Regions from separate parts of the Homo sapiens genome. Here region 1 is linked to region 2. A link means that fine-mapping ties the variant in region 2 to the expression of a gene that starts in the linked region. Tissue or cell type: stomach. Region 2 holds a variant in brackets; the other region holds the start of a gene. All regions are shown on one strand. Distances are between the middles of the regions.

The links. PIP is the estimated chance that this variant, and not a neighbour inherited with it, causes the effect.
Region 1: it holds the start of E2F8, and the variant in region 2 is fine-mapped to the expression of E2F8 in stomach (GTEx, PIP 0.98).

What each region holds. Positions count from the first base shown.
Region 1 is chr11:19,236,643-19,244,734 of GRCh38, forward strand. E2F8 (E2F transcription factor 8) reads right to left here and starts at 4,303. Exons shown (of 13, transcript NM_024680.4): 1 at 3,906-4,303; 2 at 3,465-3,588; 3 at 1,212-1,490; 4 at 672-828. The coding sequence starts at 3,479. The region is part of intron 1 of CSRP3-AS1 (CSRP3 and E2F8 antisense RNA 1); the gene reads left to right. RefSeq lists a silencer at 4,373-5,072 and enhancers at 5,193-5,302, 5,508-6,079, 6,080-6,649.
Region 2 is chr11:19,925,023-19,933,122 of GRCh38, forward strand. The region is part of intron 6 of NAV2 (neuron navigator 2); the gene reads left to right. Among named protein-coding and RNA genes, the nearest start is that of NAV2-AS3, 52 kb to the right of the region's middle. The variant T/C (reference allele first, on the strand shown) is at 3,111.

The sequences.
Region 1 (8,092 bases), 690 kb before region 2:
TATTAGAAGGGCAACTTTTCTTCACGGGGTGATTGCTTTGTATTAAAATGTATTATCTTGCACAGCACATCACTTCACAGGTTTAAATTAAGATACCCACATGACTCCAAAGGTACCCCAAATTCACCACGGGCCCCTTTTTAGCTCCAAATAGATTCAGGTCTTTGAACAGAGTAAAAAGGGGCAGGAGGAATAACTTGTGCCCAACACAAAACATTCAGAAAACTAGTCCTCAGAATAGTGCTGAAGGTCCAGGAGTGCACAGGTCCTGTTCCCACTCACAGAAGCTGATCCTCAGCGTCAACTAGGAAGATAACCATTTATCAGCCTGATTCTTCAAGAACAGCAAGGGAGAGCAATGAAGCAAAAGTTCACAGTTGTAACTTTGTGAAACAAGTCATGAGACAATATTGCCTTTCTTTAAAGCTTCAGAGACAACTGTAGTCAGAAGCAACCTCCATTGTGACTTTTCTGCCTCCAAGATTTGCTGAAATTTGCAACTACTTACCTTCATTCTTATATTAGAAGAGGGCTTTAGAGATAGAAAATTTCCATGCCGGCTTATTTGTGTCATTTACAAACACTGGCTAGATGAGCGGGGGTCTGAAGGAGTTAAGTCCATAAAGCCACTTTAATTATTAATTCTTTCAGTGAGTTCTTTGCATACTTACTAAGTTCCTCTGCCACTTCGTCAAGGCAGATGTCATTATTCACAGCAGGGTTGGGATAATTAGGATATCGTGCTAAGAACTTATGACACAATAATCCTAAACTTTTCTCTTTTCGACTTGGTTGGGATTTCTCAAATTCATCTCCAGATAAGTGTTCCTACAAAGGAAAAGGTAAACAATGTCTTATTCTAAAATAAAGTCTGACAGATTTATTAGGGGCATCTGTGCTCGATGACTGACACCAACTTACACACGCTTAGCTTCAACAGCTGCAAAGTCTGGATGGGAGAAAAGGTTAGGGGGGCCAGTACAAAATGCTTGGCAAACCTGAAAGGAAAGCCTGAAACGAAAATAACGCAAAGGTTCAGAATTCCCAGAGCTATATTTCTTGGGGTCCAAACCTTTCTGGTGCTCCGAAGGAAGTTAATAACAGCCTTCGGGTGGTGATGCTTTAAATTGCTGGCACTTCTCTAATAGCTACAACCTCCCCCCTCCCCCCAACAAATTCCCCAGCCTCCAACCAGTCCTCTGAAAACCTACGTGTATACAGTCTTTGGCCTCAGGTAATCCACTTCTGTTGTCAAACAAACCCCTTTTCTGATCTCTGTTGCGGATCTCAGGGCTCACAGCACTGATGAGCATTTTCAGGTTGGCTGTCGGTGTCCACGGCTCTCCCTGAGAGCCTTCCTTGGGCTTGGTAGGTGTGGTTAAAGGGCCAAAGTCAGGCTGGATCTCTGCCAACACGATATTTGCTGTGGTGGATTCTTTCAGAGGTGTTTTCATTAGTCCCCTTTTATGTGGCTCACAAAAGAGATTTTCCTGGTTTAAAAAATGTAAATAATTAAATCCATGGTAAAACAGGATTTATCAGACAGCTTGGATTCTAGAAATTGCATAACGAATAGAATCATGCCAAGGAAAAAATGTCTAATGAGATTGTAGAGTTGAGGAAATTAATAACTGTATTCTAATGGTCATGTGATGTGTATTGTCAATTCTAATAATTACATTTCCCATTTTTAATTTTGCAATAAGCCATAAATGTTTTCACCTTATGTTTCAACCACTGAAAAAACAACTTTAGTTAGGACTTATAATTTTAATTGTATTTTGAAATAGTTTTAGATTTAGAGAAGAGAAGCAAAGACAGTATAGAGTTCCCAAATGCCCTTCACTCAGCTTCCCCTAATTGGACTGACAATGTTAAATGATCAAACTTCTAGAAATGACTTTTGTTTACTCATGGCACTGTAATAAGTAAAGGCCTACAGGGCAGAAATTCTTATCCACCTAGCATAATGGCTGCATGCAGTGGGTGCTAAATAAAATACCACTGAAGAGTCAGAGAGACAAGGAGACAAGAGTGAGGGATAGCATATGGTCAGATTTATCAGGGAAATCTAGAGTGTCCAACAGCAGGATTTCTGACCAGAAAAGTCTGCTCTTTGAACATCCACTCCCTCATTTTACAGATAGAGAAAATGGGGCCCAGAGAAGTAAAATGATTAGGTTGGTGCAAAAGTAATTGTGGCTTTTGCTACTGAAAGTAATGGCAAAAACAGCAATTATGTTTGCATCAACCTAACAGCTACCTAAGACCACAAAGCTAGATCCTGGCAGAAGCAGGATAGCCACTGAGACAAAAGGGTAAATTAACAGCAGTTCATAAATAAGGCTAATGGAGACTATGTTCCTTCCAGTTTTGGACACCAGGGACTTCACACACTACTCCCATCTTTATCTATTTTAAAGAAAATGCTTGGAACAGCAATAAGTAAAATAATAGGCAGACCAAATAACTTTAAGAACATGGACAAATGGGACATGTTGTGACATCTTGGGTTTATCAAGTGCATTTCCGTTTGTATGTTCATGGAATCCTGCATTCTTAGCTCGCAGAAGAGAAGATGCAGGCTGAGAGAGGTCACGTAGGAGTGGAACACAGATATTTTCACTCCAAGTATGGTGCTCTTCTTACATGGAAGTCAGTATGGTGGACCCAACAGGAGCTCCTTGCCAGTGTGTGCATCTGAGATGTACTGATCTGACAATAGGCTTTTTCTTTGCCTCAGATTATCAGAAGCAATAGTAATTCTCTTATTTGACTAACATCTAAAACTATTAGGAAATATGCATGTAAGTTCACTTTTTTAAACCTATTAGTAGTTGGACACCCCCCACAGACAATTCTTTTGTAATTTTACAAAATGTTTGCCCCCTAAACAGAGCATTTTGCAGACCCCATAAATAAGCTGCCAATTTGGTAAAAAATTATCTTAAAAAGAAATTCAGTCTCCAAACATGTCAAATGCCCTTTCTGAATTCCAAGTTGTTCAAGAATCCTCAGAAATGTTGTAATGAAACTAACGAATTTTTGAAGAGGGGTAGGTTTGCCCCTTTACACTCTTTCTAGTTTTTAATGATTTGGTAGCTGTCTCAGACATAAAGAGAGAAAAGGTATTTTTAAGAATAATAAAATTTGTTAGTTTCATTACAACATTTCTGAGGATTCTTGAACAACTGGAATTCAGAAAGGGCATTTGACATGATTGGAGACTGAATTTCTTTTTAAGATAATTTTCATTTTTTAAACTATATTAATTAAATTAGTATATATTTTAAACTATATATTTTTGAAACTATAAGATAAGGTTCATTTTTTCCAGGTCTTTACAGAGGCTAACCAAGGTTGTGGCATTAAGAAAACACATTGGATAGGGAAAAATTATGGAGTTAAATCAGGATGATACTGAATTTAAAATTGCAATGATGAATACTGAAGTTATAAAGTACCTTTTCGTTCTCCATTCTGTAAATTCCTCATACATTTAGAGTTTAAAAATGAAAAATCTGGAGTTCCTCCCCAAATCCCGATGGTTCAAGTAGTCCAATCAATTGTACTAAAAGTTTTAATATCCTTAAAGAAAAAAGGAAATAGAAAAAGTTAGAGAAAAACAAGAACCAAAAGATCTGTTGAAAATTCCTTCACGGACAAGAGGCTACGGAAACAAAGCCTAACGAAAAATGACAAACTAGATTTACATTTTATTCTCGACCAGAGATCGCCCCACTGAGCGGAGAACGCCAACAAATGCCAGTAAATTCCTTCAGCAAACGGATCGGCGGTCCTAAGACTTCAAGCAACCCACGGAATTTCTAGTGACAGCCCTCTCCCATCTGTAGAAAAGGCGAGCCATTCTCCGGACCCCAGCGAATACTTTAGGAAGCACCCACCTGTTCGCAGATCAGGGCTCCGGACTAAGCGCACGAGCCCAGGTCCCAGCTGAGCGCACGCGACCCCAAGTAACTGGGTACAAGTCTGCATCTAGATGCCTGGATTTCTCCCCTTACACACACGTGCACAGGCTCAGCAGTAAAGTCGTGGGAGGTCGCTTGACAGGAAAGTTCCAAATTCAGTCCCAAAGCTCCAAGTATGCAGTTGGGCATTTAAAGAGTCTTATAATTAAGACTTTTTTTTTAAATTTAAAAAAGGGCTTCCTTAAAGATACAAAGCACTATTTACTCCCTGTTCGGGTGGCCAGTTCACACCACGGCGTTAGACTCCACCTTGGAAGGCTGTATTTGCCCAATAAGGCAAGCAGGTACTGTCCCCCGGCCGCCACTCGCTCAGTGCACTTCCCCCAACTTTCGGCCAAAGGCCCCTCCCCCAGGCCCTGTCCGCCCGCCGCAGTCCCGACAGTTCCCGGACAGCATCATCGTGGTTTCCAGGACAACAATTCCCGACCAATCAGAGGGCCGGAAGCGGGCCTGCGATTGGCCGACGGCGCCAGGGGCGGGGCCGGACCTTCCGCCTTCGATTTAAAAATTTGGCGCGGAAAGTCGGACCGTGGCCGGCGCCTCCCCTTAGCTGCGCGGGGCCTGAGCGCGGGCAAACCCGCGCCCGGAACCACGGCAACCCCGCCCCTCCCCCTCGTTCGCCCCCGCCCCTCTGCGCGGGAGCTCAGCTCCTCCCTCACGGCCCCCGGCGAAGCGGGAGGCGGGAAACGGCCGCCGCCGCCGCCGCCGCCACCCTCCCGAGCCCTCTCCCGGTGCCGTGTCGCCCGGGCGCCGCGCCCCTCTGCGTCCCGCTGACCTGTCAGTCCACCTCACGGCGGGAGCCGGCGGGGGCTGAGCCGGGACTCGTCAGCACCGCTGCCCCTCTCAGGCCCGGGAGCCCGCGTACCTGGCAGTCAGTCTTTCCGCAGCGCCGAGGTGGGTGCCGGAGAGAGACGCCGGGACCGGGACTGGCGGGCCGGCTGGCGGGCAGAGGGAGCGTGACCGTCCAGGAGCAGCCAAGCCCCCGATTTGAAATTAACCCGCTCCCGGCGCGAGCCGATACCGCGGGCGGGGAGGGCCGCTCCCCTCCCCCACGCCCGCTCGCCCCGGCCCCGGCCCCCGAGCGCCAATCCGAGCCTCCCGACCGTAGCCGCCGGCGAATCGGTGCAGGCACCGCCCTCCACTCCCGCCTCTACGGCAGAGTTGGGGGAAAAGTTCAGCAACTTTTTTTTCCTTTTTTTTTTTTTTTGCATACACCCCCTCCCCTTGCTCAAAGTTGGGGAATAAAATTTGGCCCGTCCGGGGCTCGCGGGCTGGGCCGCAGGCGCCCTGCGATTCCCCGCTTGGGGCTATCTCACCCCTGCCCAGCCCCAGGCCGGCTCACCTGCCCTCGGACTCCAGCCGGACCTCTCCCCCTTGCACCCCTGGCATGCATGATTGTGCTGCCCACCGTCTGCCCCGTGCCTCGCAGAAACTGGCGCGAGGAGGGAGAAGCTTGGCTACTGGTGCCTAAGCTCCGTGGGCTCTGGGCCTTGGCCCAGCGGTGAGAACTCAGGTGTAGGAGGAAGAGGAGGAAGGCGGAAAACCCTCCAACCCTGTCCTCGCCGTCTTTCCTCAGGGTCTCCCACCCACTCCTCCCTTTCTCTTCCCTGTTGTCTTTCCCTCTTTTTCCGGTCTCCGAGCCTCAGGCAGCTTTAGCCTGGTTCCCTGTAGAGCCCTAGCAGGGTCGGGGAGACACTTCGATCCTTCGTCCTCACTTTGCAGAACGGGACACCGAGGCCCGGGGCGGCGGCGCTGCCTCGGCTGCACCTGGATCATTTGCGCCCGCGTTGGCTCCCTTTGCTCTCCTCTGCCTTAGACTTTTCTGCGGACTGGTGCTGAGTGTTGCCCAACCGCGCCGAGATCTGGGCGCCGGTCTCTCGATCTGGACTCGGTTTGGCTCGTCCTCCTCTGTAATCGCGTGTCTTTAGGCTCCAGCAGGGCCCGGGGCCACACTTCCCCACTCCCACCGCTAACTTGGGGATCAGTGACTCTCCCATTGCTGACTAGCAGGGCGAGGCATTTTTATTTTCTGCGAAACGCGATGAGGGCGGGGATGCTATGATATTGAGGCTGGGGTCGCAGCGCAGCAGCTGCCGGCCATAGGGCCAGGGGTCTCCGTGGCGAGCGAAGGCTCATCTCCCCGCGGAACGCGACCGCAGGCTTGCGGTGTGGCCGCCCTGGAATGTTGGCGCCGTCGTGTCCCTGTCCCCCTTTCGTCGCCAGCTGAGGTGCAGGTCTTGCTCAAGAAGGCGCTTCGACCTGAAAGCAGGCCTTTCAGGTACTGTGCAGAGGGGCCACTGCCTGTGGCTCGCAGATTTGAAATAAAGCAGAGGTCACTATATAGGGTTCCACCGTTGCTAGCACTGAGCGGCTGGTTCTTACTAAGCCCAGGTACCCCTTTTTTGGAGCAAGACTGGGTTCTAAATGTATCAACAAAAAGTGGGGAGTTGGTGCTTCTGCTTTAGCCACTAGCTGTTGGCCAGATTGTCATCTCCCCCAACCCCCTGAATGGTCAGCGCTCCCAAGAGTGCATAGATTCAGCTATGCCTAATGTACCCGAAGTTATTACAGCCCCGGAGTCCTGTGGGCCATAAATCCCTTTTAAAGTTCTTTAGAAGCAGTCTGCCTCATGCACCTGTGTTCAGAGATAGTGACTAATTCGTTCAAATCTGTGATCTACAGGGCCATTCATGCTGCAGATGTCTGAGTGACAGTTACCTGTAAGGCACATCATGCAGGGAGCAGCCACCTCTGGTGACACTTGACAGATGGCCTCTCATTTCATACTCAGCACAGGTGTGAAAGCATGGGTTATGACTCTGAGAGGGAAGCAGCATTTTAAAGTGACAAACCCAAGGTCTAACTGTAAGGGACAGGACTGGGATTTGAAGCCAAGGGTGTTTAACGTCTCAGGGCTTTCCACTGAAAGCTGTGTTCACCACTGTGCGGCGTGCTCATCCTTACTTGCTTCATAGGATAGTTGTGTCCCATTTTATAGAGAAGAAAACTGAGGCACAAAAGGGTTAAACTGATGGCCAAGTTAGCTACAGAGCCAGAATTAGAATCCAGGTCTACCTGCTCCAAGTTCATACATCCCATTCCACTGCCTCTGAAAGTTCCTGTGAGAGCAATGTTAGTGCCAACTCAGGCTAGCCCTTAACCATTTCAACCCCTCCCTAAACACACAAAAAAACAGGAAGGTGAGAGTGTAATTCTTGCTTACTGATAGTTGTCATGTCTTACTGAAGGAAGTGAAATTATAGTCAAACTCATTGAATATGTTGAAAAGTGGTTTTATTAAGAGTGAAGTGATACAGTTTTGAAGTCTTAACAACACTTTCATGTAATGAAAGGTAATAAAGAAAGAAAGGTTCTACTCATCACTGTGTAGAGTATCAATTTGAAATGCAGCATGAGTGTAAAGGAGGGAAAAGACTACTGAAAACTTTTATGTTTACTGCATAACCAAGAAGGAAGGATCAGGGCATAAGCTTGAAACTTTTTTTTTTTTTTAATTTTCCCATCAAATATGTTTTCCACTTATTAGTTACATAATCCAAGGGAATATTTGTGTATTTGTTTCTGGTCTTTTGTTCATCATGTTGTGTAATCTGTGTCTCACTGAAGTTAGACCAGTTTTTCTACTCTGTGCTGTCGCCCTTCTGGATTGCACAACTTGGAGGGCTGATACGTTGTGTAACACGTTCAGCATTAAATAAAGTATTATGAAAAAAGATATCAAAGGTAAGGAGGAAAGATAGGCATCACCGGGGCGCCTACATTCAAAGGTAACATTTGGGATTTCTGAAGCGTGTCCCTTTTCATCATCACCAAAAAGACAGGCAAGACCTTCCCCTGCTGAGCAGGGAAGGATGAAGGGCTAAGGAAGGAGTTCTAGCTAATGGGTTTCTTGACCTTTTCTGTCTGTCTTGCTGCCCCACCTCCTAGGTGCTTATATCACCAACTCTGCTTCCTGACCTAGTGGGGCAATTTGGGTTTGTGCTTTATCTGCAGTACGTGTTGGCATAGATACCACGAAACAGCTCTCTGGAGCTTAAAACTGCACAAATCCCTATGTGCTGGGTTGGATTGTGGCTGCTCAC
Region 2 (8,100 bases):
GCTTTCTCTAATGATTAGTGATGTTTAATGTCTTTCCATATTTTTATTGGCCATTTGCATATCTTCTTTTGAGAATATTCAAGTTTTTTGCCCATTTTAAAATCCGGTTGTTTTTGTTGAGTTGGAAGAGTTCTTTATATATTCTGGATATCGGTCACTTATCAGATATGCGATTTATAAATATTCCATCCGGTTCTGTAGGTTGCCTTTTTACTCTACTGATAGTGTTCTTTGATGCACAGAAGTTTTTAATTTCCGTGAATCCAACTATTTTTTCTTTGGTTCCCTGTGCTTTTGGTGTCATATCCAAGAAATTATTGACAAATCCAAAGTCATGAGGTTTTGCCCTATGTTTTCCTTTAGGAGTTTTATAGTTTTAGCTTTTATGTATAGATCTTAGATCCATTTTGAGTTAATCTTTGCATATGATATAAGGTAAGAATCCAGGCCGGGTGTGGTGGCTTACGCCTGTAATCCCAGCACTTTGGGAGACTGAGGCGGGTAGATCACGAGGTCAGGGGTTCGAGACCAACCCGGCCAATGTGGTGAAACCCTGTCTCTACTAAAAATACAAAAATTAGCCGAGCGTGGTGGTGCATGCCTATAATCCCACTATTCAGGAGGCTGAGGCAAGAGAATTGCTTGAACCCGGGAGGCGGAGGTTGCAGTGAGCTGACATTGCGCCACTACACTCCAGCCTGGGCAACAGAGTAAGATTCTGTCTCAAAAAAAAAAAAAAAAAGAATCCAACTTTAGTTTTCTTTTCCATGAGAATATCCAGTTTTTCCACCACCATTTATTGAAAAGACCATTCTTTCCCCTATTGAATAGTTGTGGAACTCTTACCAAAAATTGTTTGACCATATGTGCAAAGGTTTATTTCTGAGCTATCTAGTCTAGTCCACTGGTCTATATGTCTGTCTTTATGATAGTACCACACTTTTAAAAAATTACTTTAACTTTGCAGTGGGTTTTGAAATCAGAAAGTGTGAGGCCTCCAACTTTGTTCTTTTTCAAGATTGTTTTGATTTTTGGGGGTCCCTTGAGATTCCAATGAATTTTAGGATAGATTTCTGTATGTCTGGAAAAAAAAGAAAGTCACTGGAATTTTGATAAGGATTGCATTAACCAAACAACTTTTAAAAAACATTTGATTATAAAAAAACCATTTTATTGTATAGATCCTCATCCTTATTCTAGCTTAGACTTTCTAGAAGCATATGGAATTATAGACACAATAAGCTCCTTGAAGCATGTGGATCCAAAGCCCAGCTCGCTCTCCCTCCATGCCCTCTCACTCTCCTGTCTCCATTCTTTGTTTGTCCTCGTGCCCCGCTTACCTTCTTTACTTCTCTCTGTACCTCCAGGGATCCTCTCCAAGATGGAGTTGGAGAGAAGACTGTGTTTAAGCTATATCCTTAATATTAGACATTGACACAGCAGTGCTGCTGAGGAGGCTCCTCCAGCCAGGCTCCAAGAACCTTGCAGAACCTCTAAGTGGATCGAGACAGGTTCACCTGCCCTTCTGTGGTCTGGTGGCTACCAGGTTGTCAAGAACTGACCAGGATGACTCTGAAAACAGTCTCTAGCTCATGTGGCTGGAGTCAATACACTTAAAGAAAAAAAAAAAAACAAAAAAAACTAGTTTCAATTATACTAACCAATTTGAATACTCAAGATTGACACCTTGACAAATTTTAGGAAATTGCAGACATTTTCCCACACCCAATTATCAGGCCTGTTCTCCAAAGACTTGGGAGAGGATTTAGGCCAGAAACCTCCCCAGGGCAGATTTAAAAATCACAGTAGCAGTGACAGGAGCTGGGATCAACAGGACACTCTCCCTGAGTGCCTGTTGGCATCAGGACCAGACCACCAACATCTCCCTAACTGAAAAGCTGGGGACAGGAGAGACCTGGGGCCAGTGTCCGCCCTCACTGAAGGAGAGAGGAAGAAATGCTTTATTTATCTGCTTTAAACAGTATTTTCATTTAGAAAGCATTTTGGTTCCTGTCAGGGAAGGTTAAGGCTGGTTGCCAGAAAAACCAAACCAAACTTTTTCCCTCCCAACCGGAGGATTAATACTCTCTCTAAACTCCGAGAAAAAAAATTCCTTTTCTTCAAAGCCATCCTGTCTGCAGTGTTTCAAATGAAACTTTTCCTTCTTACAGTGGTTTGTCAGTTGGTGGTGGGCCAACCTTGTAAGCTGGTCTTTTAGAACTGAGGTGTTCCAACTGCAAGGCACAGCCCACTAGTGGGGCATAAGACCTGTTTAAGGGCCAGGCGTAGTGGCTCACGCCTGTAATCCCAGCACTTTGGGAGGCCAAGGTGGGAAGATCACCTGAAGTCAGGAGTTCCAGACCAGCCTGGCCAACATGGTGAAACCCCATCTCTACTAAGAATACAAAAATTAGCCGGGCATGGTGGCAGGAACCTGTAATCCCAGCTACTCAGGAGGCTGAGGCAGCAGACTTGCCTGCATCTGGGAGGTGGAGGTTGCAGTGAGCACTCCAGCCTGGGCAACAAGAGTGAAACTCTGTCTCAAAATAAAATAATAAAATAAATAAAATAGCCAGGTGTGGTGGTATGTGCCTGTGGTTCCAGCAGTGAGCCGAGATTGCACCAGTGCACTCCAGCCTGGGCAACAGAGCAAAACTACATCTTTTAAAACAAAACAAAACAAAACAAAACAAAAAAAACCTGTTTAAGGGCTCTGCAATCAGCATTTTAGAACAGACTAGAGTAGCATATATCAGAGTTTATTATACATAATAAGAGTATATCTTGATATTTTTCAGTTTAACATGTGGAGAAGTGGCTGTTTATTGGATGGCAATATATCATTCTTACTGTGTTTTTACTATGTGGTCAAAAATTGTCACAGCTACTATTTTAAAATTACCTTTGGCTCAACAAGGCCTGATCATGTTTCCAGAACTGGCAAAATATCACATACTACACAAATATATAGAAATAAATAAAGCTCTAAAAACTAACCATTTCAGGTTCGTTTTGAACCTAGTCCTTATTTGAGCCTTCTGGTTTGATTTCTATTTGGTTGATTACGTTTTTCAAAAGAACACATTTAATATGAGTATATCTTGATTTAA[T/C]GTAACAGTGTTTCTCCCACTTCAGTCTTACATAAAATTTCTGCGTGATTTTTGCCAAATCTGTGAGCCACTTGTGTTTTTTATTTGTATTTTCCTTAAACTAGCTCAAATTTTAAATCTACATTTAATATCCATGAAACTGTTAATTTATATATGGCTAGTTATCATTTTCCAATATGTTTCTAATATATCTAATAAGCAATAAATATGACTTTTAAAATATAAAAATATTCATGTGCCATCCAACACAATCTCATCCACTTCAGTGGCCCACATATCATCATTTGGGGGATACAGATGTTCAAAACATTCTTTTATGCTTTTCTTTTTCCCCCTTAGGTTCCTTTGCTTTAACAAAGGTTCAGATATTTGAGGAAAATAACAAGAGTTGTTAGTTATCAGGGAAATAAGTGCTTTTCATTTTGAAGAACTCACGCCACCCACCTTCCCCCAAACTGGTTTTCATAGGATACTAGCATTTCTGAATTCACAAGCAGCTCATCTAATGTTGACCATACCTTGACCCAGCCGGTTTTCTCCATCAAGATTGGAAATCACCCAGCTGCAGGGGTCGTCTCAGAGACTTGCCCAGATTTGAATAGAAGCAAGGCTAAAAGGACACTAGAGAAATAGCTCATCCTCTTTCTAACAAATGGGGCAACTGAAGCCAAGAGAGGCAAAATGGCATATCTAGGATCACGCCATGAGTTGGGGACAAAGTTCAAGGTCCAGCCTACCCACCCACACCTCCCCTTTGTTTAACTTACTATCTGAGAAGCCTGTTGAGGAAAGCTTCATGCTAGGAGTCATAGGACCCCAGGATTAGAAATGGACAAAGAAGGCCAGGCGCGGTGGCTCACACCTGTAATCCCAGCACTTTGGGAGGCTGAAGTGGCTGGATCCCTTGAGCTCAGGAGTTTGAGACCAGCTTGGGCAACATGGCGAAACTCCATCTCTACAAAAAAACACACACACATACACAAAAATTAGCCAGGTGTTGGTGGTACTCGTCTGTAAGGCTGAAGCTGGAGAATCACTTCAGCCTGGGAAGTGGAGGTTGCAGTGAGCCAAGATCGAGCCGCTGCACTGCAGCCTGGGTGACAGAGTGAGATTCCATCTCAAAAAAAGAAAAAAAGAAACAGACAAAGGGAGGAACAGGCCCCAAACAGCCACTCAGCCAAGCTCTGAGATCACTGGTATGATATCCTAGGAATGATAGAAATGTATCAAGTTACTTTGTACAAGACCACTCATGACTTGACATACCCTTCATGTCATAGGGGACTTCTGGCTGTGACATGAGTGTAGAATGTTGATGACCTGGTCCTCAGATGCCCTAGTGCCCCCTATCTAGCACCACTCAAGACTCCTGCTCTAGAAACCAAATTCAGAATCATACCCAGGTGCTACCTTTTATAGTCGTAATGAGTAGCCTTGAAATGCCCCCATGACTTAATAACCAGGGGAGCCCAGACTAAATACTACATAGAAATTCTGATTCTTTGAGTTTTAATCTGAATTTTTTCCTGAGTTTAGGCTTAAGAGTTTTAATAAAACCCTAAAGACTCATCACAAATCCTACATCTCTGTTACCTTAAATATGACTTGCAAATGTCAAAATTACCCACCAGCAATTCATAAGTATCTTTATGCTCCAGCAGGCTTTAGAACACAAAGATGAGTCAGGGCGGGGAGTCTCTGTCCTGGAGGAAATCCCAGACCAGGGGAATAACTGACCTATAGCAGAAGCACCACGTGGTAACACAAGGATCACTTCCTCCAGGAAGTTTTCCCAAACTCTTCAGAGGGAATTAGTAGAGTCTACTAATTCTCCAGTTCTCATAGCACCTCATAGAGCCCTCTACCACTTTTTACACTGTTTTCATGGTTTGTTTTGAGGTCCATTGCACCCTGAGACAGTGAGTTCTAGGGGGCGGGAGCTTTATTCAACTCTGTGTTCCCAGAGCATTGTATAAAGTAGCTGCCCCTCCAAAATCATTCTATGGAAGAGGTATGGACGGAATCCTAGTGAAGCACAACAGTAGGGGAAAATGTCATGTGATATAAACCAGGCCTGAGAGTCTCAGATGGCCATTTCACCAAGACAAGCCAAGTATCTGTTTTCTTCTGGGTCAGTTATTAGCTACTTAGTTGGTTAATTTCTAGCTGCGATTGTTAGTGTTAAAAAAAATAGAAATTATAGTGGAGACATCCATTTCTGAGCAAGCCTCAGAGTAGTTCCAAGCGGTAAGATCACATTGATCCATGTACACGTGGGGACTATGCCTAAAACTTCTTTAGGAAAGAGGAACATACCTTTGAATGTGATCTTGTAGTTCCTATAAGGACAGTGTTGCAACCTGCCCCTAAGACCCCCGTCCTTTTCTTTAGCACTATTTTTTAACAAATAATATAGTTTATTTAATTAAATTTATTATCTGTTCCTTCTTGCTAAAATGTGAACTCCATGAAGGCAGAGATTTCTATCTGTTTTTTCATCGATGGATCCCAAGTACCTAAAACAGTATCTGACACATATTAGGAGCTCAAAGAATGAATAGATACATATGAATGAATATACTGAATGAATGAATGAAAACTTTACATCTGCCCCAGATCTAAGTTCAGGTAAAGGGAAAGGCAGTTTTCCTAGGAGGAGTGGTACTCAGGATTGGTGGGTTCACTATTATTTCAGCCAGAGAGCCATCCTCTGTGATGTAGGCTGCTGTATTTCAAATGGCAGGGTTGGTTTGTACTCCACCATGGATGTCATGAACATACATAAGCTAGTAGAATGCGCAGTTCCTAAAAGTGCTCTTGTTGTTTAAGTGGCTGTTTACATGCATTCTTCATCGAAGGAGGTAGCTATGACACCATGTCAGGAGACCTGAGTTCAAATCCCAGATATCTGCATTTCTGGCTGTGTAATTTAGGATTATTCTTTAGCCCTACCTAAGTCTCAGTTTCCTCACTCTTAAAATAGGGGCAGGAACTCCTTTTCACAATGTGCTGAGCACTGAGCCTCCTGACACCAAGCAGGCCGCTGATGGGCAGCGTCAAGCCTGTAGCAACCCTCTAACAGGCCAGCAGTGTGGGTGGGTTCTCGGAGCCTGATTCCAAGCCAGTCTCCCCAGGAAAACATCCAACAACACCCCTTGAGTTTTGTTAGGGAGGATTGTGAGGCACCCTCCCTCCAAACCCAAATCCCCAGTAAGTCAGGAAGATATATGTGTTTTAAAACATTGGGAGGTCTGCTTTGGATCACCCTGGAGCTGTGGCTTCCCCGAGCAGCTGAGAGTGAAAGGAGGCAGTTCCTTTACTGTGAGCTCTCACGGCACGGTGCTCACGCCCCACACAGGGGCTGCCTTCACTCGGCTTCAGCAGCCGTTGACTTTTAAATCATAAAAAGCCGCTCTATATACAGTTTACTCTGTTGCTAGAAGGCAGTGGAACATAGGTATTTAAAAAAAAAAAAAAGCAGAAGAAGCAGCCGTTAATCCCGCCAGGCTTCTGGGCACTGGAGTAGTTGTGGATGACAAAAGTTAATTAGAAACATGAGCAGTTTAACCGAAAACACTTGTGACAATTGGAAGGGCAGCCTCTCCGGTTGGAGGATTTTTCCTAGGGAATCATTGCAGGAGAAAGTGGCTGCTGCTAGGTAAGTCATGTCATTGTGAGTTTGCAGATGCAGAGGTGCTTTTTGGGGGGCTGAAGGGGTGTATCCTGTCTGCCGTGCACACTGGGCATGGGGTGTGGGTGGGTGCGGGCACGGGGCCCAGTGGAGACGTGCTTTGCCTGGCACTTTCTCTCCAACAGCTGTCCTTCCTTGAGAGATAGGCTGCATCATCCGGGGCACTGACTGAAGCAGGGTGCTGCAGTTTCCATTTCTGTCACATTGGCCACCTTGGTGACTAGCTGTTAGTTTGGAGCCTGCCCTCACTAGAACAATTCTGGCTCTAGTTTGGAAGTATTTTGAGGCTTTTCTGAGAAAAGAGTCTGGCCAGGGAAATACTCACTGAGCGCCAAGGGGAAGCCTTGACTTTCAGATAACCTGTGTGTTTTCTGGCCCACAGTGAACCCATTGCATAGATTACACTCTTAAGCAAAAAAAAAAAAAAAAAAAAAAAAGAAAGAAAAGGAAAAAAAAAAAGCTGTTTTTAAGTCCAACCTGAACCATGTTTGCAACGTGTTTTGGTTTTTTGGTTTGTTTGGTTTTTTTCTGAGACAGAGTCTCACTCTTTTTCCCAGGCTGGAGTACAATGGCATGATCTCAGCTCACTGCAACCTCTACTTCTCCTGCCTCAGCCTCCCAAGTAGCTGGGATTACAGGCATGTGCCACCACACCCAGCTAATTTTTGTATTTTTAGTAGAGACTGGGTTTCACCATGTTGGCCAGGCTGGTCTTGAATTCCTGACCTCAGGTGATCTGCCCGCCTCGGCCTCCCAAAGTACTGGGATTACAGGTGTGAGCCACTGCACCCAGCCATTTGCAACTTTTAAAAAGTGCCAGCATAGGAAAAACTTACATGCTTTAATAGGCTTTAACAACTTTTGTGTGTAATTATTCTTTTTTAAAGATTCTACATGGTTTCTCCTTCTTTTCTATTTTTGTAATTGTTGTATTTTAATGTCTCTGATACATTGTTTGCTTAAAGTTGGATAATTCTTGATTCTTTCCCATAATTGGGAAACAGGCTATGGGATGAATAATTGAAAACGGTAGGTATTTCCTACTCTCTCCTGCACTGGCTGTATTAACGGTGCAGGTGTCTGTTAAGATTTGTTAAGACCTGCATGCTTTCACGTGGCACATGCCACCAAAATGTGATGGGGTTGGGGGGATGTGAACTGTGCAGTATGGAAAGCAGGAGGAAGTCAAGCCAGAAATTAAAACCTAACCACAGATAATCCACAAAGTGGGCAATGGAGCTATACGGCATTTGGGTTGGGAGTGATTGGTTGTGTGGCCATGGCTGACCCTCCCTGGTC